Regions from separate parts of the Homo sapiens genome. Here region 2 is linked to region 1. The links come from fine-mapping of genetic effects on gene expression. Tissue or cell type: whole blood. Region 1 holds a variant in brackets; the other region holds the start of a gene. All regions are shown on one strand. Distances are from middle to middle.

Region 1 (2,802 bases):
ACTTCCAAATTCCTCTGTAGCAATACCATCAAAACCCTGGGACACGGATTGTCAGGCCTCTGAGCCCAAGCCAAGCCATCGCATCCCCTGTGACTTGCACGTATAAGCCCAGATGGCCTTAACTAACTGAAGAATCACAAAAGAAGTGAATATGCCCTGCCCCACCTTAACTGATGACATTCCACCAAAAAAGAAGTGTAAATGGCCGGTCCTTGCCTTAAGTGATGACATTACCTTGTGAAAGTCCTTTTCCTGGCTCATCCTGGCTCAGAAAGCACCCCCACTGAGCACCTTGTGACCCCCACTCCTGCCCGCCAGAGAACAAACCCCCTTTGACTGTAATTTTCCTTTACCTACCCAAATCCTATAAAACGGCCCCACCCTTATCTCCCTTCGCTGACTCTCTTTTCGGACTCAGCCCGCCTGCACCCAGGTGAAATAAACAGCCGTGTTGCTCACACAAATCCTGTTTGGTGGTCTCTTCACACAGACGTGCATGAAATTTGGTGCCGTGACTCGGATTGGGGGACCTCCCTTGGGAGATCAATCCCCTGTACTCCTGTTCTTTGCTCCGTGAGAAAGATCCACCTACGACCTCAGGTCCTCAGACCGACCAGCCCAAGGAACATCTCACCAATTTTAAATCAGGTAAGCGGCCTCTTCTTACTCTCTTCTCCAACCTCTCTCACTGTCCCTCAACCACTTTCTCCTTTCCACTCTTCAATCTCTCCCTTCTCTTAATTTCAATTCCTTTCATTTTCTGGGAGAGACAAAGCAGACACGTTTTATCGGTGGACCCAGAACTCCGGCGCCAGTCACGGACTGGGAAGGCAGCCTTAGCCTTCCCTTGGTGTTTAATCATTGCAGGGACACCTCTCTGATTATACACCCACGTTTCAAGGGTGTCAGACCACGCAGGGACGCCTGCCTTTGTCCTTCACCCTTAGCGGCAAGTCCCGCTTTTCTGGGGAAGGGGCAAGTACCCCAACCCCTTCTCTCCTTGTCTCTACCCCTTCTCTGCTTTTCTGGGAGAGGGGCAAGTACCACTCAACCCCTTCTCCTTCACCCTTAGTGGCAAGTCCCGCTTTTCTACGGGGCAAGAACCCCCAATCCCTTATTTCCACACCCCGACCTCTTATCTCTGTGTCCCAATCCCTTATTTCCGTGCCCCGACCTCGTATCTCTGCACCCCAATCCCTTATTTCCGCGCCCCAACCTCTTAATATCTCTGCGCCCCAATCCCTTATTTCCGCACCCCGACCTCTTATCTCTGTGTCCCAATCCCTTATTTCCGTGCCCCGACCTCGTATCTCTGCGCCCCAATCCCTTATTTCCGTGCCCCAACCTCTTAATATCTCTGCGCCCCAATCCCTTATTTCCGCACCCTGACCTCTTATCTCTGTGTCCCAATCCCTTATTTCCGCACCCCGACCTCTTATCTCTGCACCCAATCCCTTATTTCCGCACCCCGACCTCTTATCTCTGTGTCCCAATCCCTTATTTTCGTGCCCCGACCTCGTATCTCTGCACCCCAATCCCTTATTTCCGCGCCCCAACCTCTTAATATCTCTGCGCCCCAATCCCTTATTTCCGCACCCCGACCTCTTATCTCTGCGC[C/A]CCAACCCCTTTTCCCACTTTTCTGGAAGGTAAGAACCCCCGAACCCCTTCCCTCTGTTTCTCTACTCTCTTTTCTCTAGGCTTGCTTCCTTCACTATGGGCAACTTTCCACCCTCCATTCCTCCTTCTACTCCCTTGGCCTGTGTTCTCAAAAACTTAAAACCTCTTCAACTCACACCTGACCTAAAACCTAAATGCCTTATTTTCTGCAATGCCGCTTGACCCCAGTACAAACTCGACAGTAATTCCAAATAGCCAGAAAATGGCACTTTGAATTTTTCCATCCTGCAAAATCTAAATAATTCTTGTCGTAAAATAGGCAAACGGTCTGAGGTGCCTGACGTCCAGGCATTCTTTTACACATCAGTCCCTTCCTAGTCTCTGTGCCCAGTGCAACTCGTGCCAAATCTTCCTTCTTTCCCTCCCGCCTGTCCCCTCAGTACCAACCCCAAGTGTCGCTGAGTCTTTCTAATCTTCCTTTTCTACAGACCCATCTGACCTCTCCCTTCCTCCCCAGCCTGCTTGCTCCTCGCCAGGCCGAGCTAGGTGCCAATTCTTCCTCAGCCTCCGCTCCTCCACCCTATAATCTTTTTATCACCTCCCCTCCTCACACCTGGTCCGGCTTTCAGTTTCGTTCCGTGACTAGCCCTCCCCCTCCTGCCCAGCAATTTACTCTTAAAAAGGTGGCTGGAGCTAAAAGCACAGTCAAGGTTAATGCTCCTTTTTCTTTATCCCAAATCGGATAGCGTTTAGGCTCTTTTTCATCGAATATAAAAATCCAGCCCAGTTCATGACTTGTTTGGCAGCAACCCTGAGACACTTTACAGCCCTAGACCCTAAAAGGTCAAAAGGCCGTCTTATTCTCAAAATACATTTTATTGCCCAATCTGCTCCCGACATTAAATAAAACTCCAAAAATTAAATTCCGGCTCTCAAACCCCACAACAGGATTTAATTAACCTCGCCTTCAAGGTGTACCATAATAGAAAAAAGTTGCAATTCCTTGCCTCCACTGTGAGACAAACCCCAGCCACATCTCCAGCACATAAGAACTTCCAAATGCCTGAACTGCAGCGGCCAGGCGTTCCTCCAGAACCTCCTCCCACAGGAGCTTGCTACACTTGCTGGAAATCTGGCCACTGGGCCAAGGAATGCCCGCAGCCCGGGATTCCTCCTAAGCCGCGT
Region 2 (2,802 bases), 67 kb after region 1:
CTACTATCTGCACAGTGGTCGACTAAGGGGTACTAAGCACAGTCTCTACCCGAAAGCCTGACTATACTACGAGGAGGCAAAAGCTGGGGACAGAGGGCCGCTGCCTGAGGGGTAGGAGAACCGCAATTCTAAGAACGGTAGCCGTGACATGCACAAACCCAGCTTTCCTTCCCTGCGCAGAACCACCCGAGGGACCGCACCATCCCCGCTGGGACAGGACACATTTCCCCAGAGAAAGCTAACCAGCTAGCAAACCTAACTTGCCCGGGGCTGGCTGGAGGCGCACGGATCAAGCTCCGCCTCTCTCTCCCGCCTAAAGCAGGCGTAGAATCTTCGCAAAACGTCACAGGGCCAAGACTGAGCGCGCCAAAGCGGGACCCACCCCCAGGAGACGCGGATGCTGCGGGAAGGTCCCTCCCCTTCCTCTCTCTGCCCGCGCGAAGCTCATTCATTCTAGAGGCGGGCTGCCAGTCCTCCCCGGCCGCCCATCCCGGCACTGCAAATCCGCTAGACGCTTTGTCTCGCGCCGGCCGGAAACTGGGGCGCGCACGCGAGCGCGCGCTCGCGCTCCAGCTCCCCGCACCTGGGGCCTGAGGGGCCGCCTCTCCGCGCCGGCTCCCCGGATTCGAGTGCGAAAGCGGGAGCTCCTTCTCGGCAGTCCCAGGCGCGCACTTACCACGTCCCAGCGGGTATCCAAAATCTAGAAATGGGCATCACGGCCCCCCAGCGCTACAGCTCGAGCCCCCTCCGCGACCCCTGCTCCGCTATGAACTCTAGATTCTTTCTCCTTTCCGGAGACCGAGACCCTGTTCCTTCAGAAGGACGCGTGCATCCTGGCCTCTGCTCCCTCCCCACGGCAGAACCCGGTGAGCTGGTCGCCGCGGTTGCGCCCCCGCCCCTCCTTGGCGCTAACGCGGCCGCCAGCTAGCACTCACTTGAGGAGCAGCTGGTCGTGTTCCGCCTTGCACTTGCCCAGCTCGATCTGCAGCTTGGCGCGCTCGCGGGCCGTGTCGTCGAGCGCGCGTCGCGCGTCGGCCAGCTCGGTCTCGTAGAGCGCCTTGAGGCCGGTGAGCTCACGGCCGCGCACCTCCTCGCGCTCCGTCACCTGCAGCTGCAGCGCGCTGTTCTCCGTCTCCAGGCTGCGCACCTTGTCGATGTACACCGCCAGCCGGTCATTGAGCTCGCGCAGCTCCTCCTTCTCCTGGAGCCGCGACAGGCGCGTGGGGCTCAGCGGCGTGGTGGGGCCGCCAGCGCGGCTGCCCATCCGCGGCGGCACGGGGGTCGCAGTCGCCATGGCGGGCGGCGGAGACAGCGGGGCGGCGAGGCCGCGAGCGGGACCGTGATAAGGAGGGGACGGCAGGGGGCGAAGCGGGGACCGAAGGCACAAACCGGCGACCTGCGCTCACGTCCAGACGCTGGCGTTTAGAGGAACGGAGAAGCACCTGGGATGGCGGGAGCTCGATTACAGCACAAAGGGCAAAGGCGCGCGGGGGGGAACTACGAATCAATCGATCGATCGCGAAATACCCTTTGTAAGAAAACACACACACCCACTCACACACGCACGCGGGAAAATGCAAGACGAGGGTGACTGGAGGCCCAGCAGGGTTCGCGCCGCCGCCGTCTCCTGCTCGCAGCACTTTGTTTCCTCTCAGGCTGCACGGAGCGGCGGGCGGGGGGAGGAGGGCCGGGAGGGGCGGGCTGGAGGCAAGCCGCGGGGGGCGGAGGTGGCGCGGGCCGCGGCGCCGCACTCCCCAACATGGCCGGCACGCCCCGGCGCCTCCACGTGACTACCATGGGCCAATGGGGAGCAGGCAGCGCGCTTCGGCGGTTCGGGGGCCGGGCCTGTAAATTTAAAATCTGGCCCTTGGGCAACCGTCAGCTCGGCCCTCCCGGCTGGGCGGTTCCCGGACCAGGCTCAGGGCTGTAAGGAAGGACGCCTGGGACTGCCCACCCGCGCGGCTCTGGGCCCAGGGCCCTCCCGCCGCCCCGCGGGGACCCCTTGGAGGGGCCGGGCCTGAGAAAGGCGGGAAGGAGCCCGGAGGTTTCCGGGACGGATCTGCGCCACCGCCCACACTCGGCGGTTCAGGGAAATTCAAATATAAACGTCCCTAAAAGCCACACGCGAAACTCAGAGTGTCCCCGGCCACCGCGGGCGTGGTAACCTTATCCCCCGCTCCGCTGGAGGGCTCGGGAAACGGCCTGGAGGCCGGGACGCTGTGGAATTACGTAATAGGCACTTGAGTCCGAGGTTCCAAATGCACGGCTTGCAGGTTCCAAGTACCAGCCTTTATTTTTCTCTCCGGTGGAAAACTGTATCAGGCAACTTCTTTCCATGAAAGTGAGATCTGTGCGTCTTGAAGCCGATAGATTATCACAGAAAAACCAGCAACCCTGATTTTAAATCATTTGCCAACAGTGTTAATGGGCGGTTCCTAATCCGTTTCTTAATTTAAGGGTTTGTAAAATCAAAAAACAGCTCAGAAATGATACGATTAACATATGACGGTGAGTAACTACGAGAGCAAGCTGTTTCATACTCCGTTAAAATCAGGTACATAAAAATCTGAACTTGTGAAAATTTAAGATGAAATAATTTTTTGCTTTTAAAAAGAGGCTCCCAAGATGTCACTGGCAGCTACTTCTATTAGAAAGCACATTCATCCCTTTGAAAAGTTCCTAATTTTTAGCTAACATTTATTGGGACTGAGTGCCAGCACCAGGCTTTTCATGGATTACCCATCCACACAATCTCCGTGTGATGTGGGAAACTGGATTGTTTCTATTTGAAAATTCATCCGG

The links. PIP is the estimated chance that this variant, and not a neighbour inherited with it, causes the effect.
Region 2: it holds the start of LMNB1, and the variant in region 1 is fine-mapped to the expression of LMNB1 in whole blood (INTERVAL, PIP 0.96).

Annotation. Positions count from the first base shown.
Region 1 is chr5:126,842,953-126,845,754 of GRCh38, reverse strand. No RefSeq gene overlaps it. Among named protein-coding and RNA genes, the nearest start is that of LMNB1, 67 kb to the right of the region's middle. RefSeq lists an enhancer at 1-442. The variant C/A (reference allele first, on the strand shown) is at 1,618.
Region 2 is chr5:126,776,001-126,778,802 of GRCh38, reverse strand. It overlaps LMNB1 (lamin B1), which reads right to left and starts at 1,667. Exons shown (of 11, transcript NM_005573.4): 1 at 936-1,667. The coding sequence starts at 1,294. LMNB1-DT (LMNB1 divergent transcript) reads left to right here and starts at 2,317. Exons shown (of 4, transcript NR_134485.1): 1 at 2,317-2,508. RefSeq lists enhancers at 1-90, 1,106-1,906 and silencers at 581-690, 901-950, 1,261-1,340, 1,541-2,190.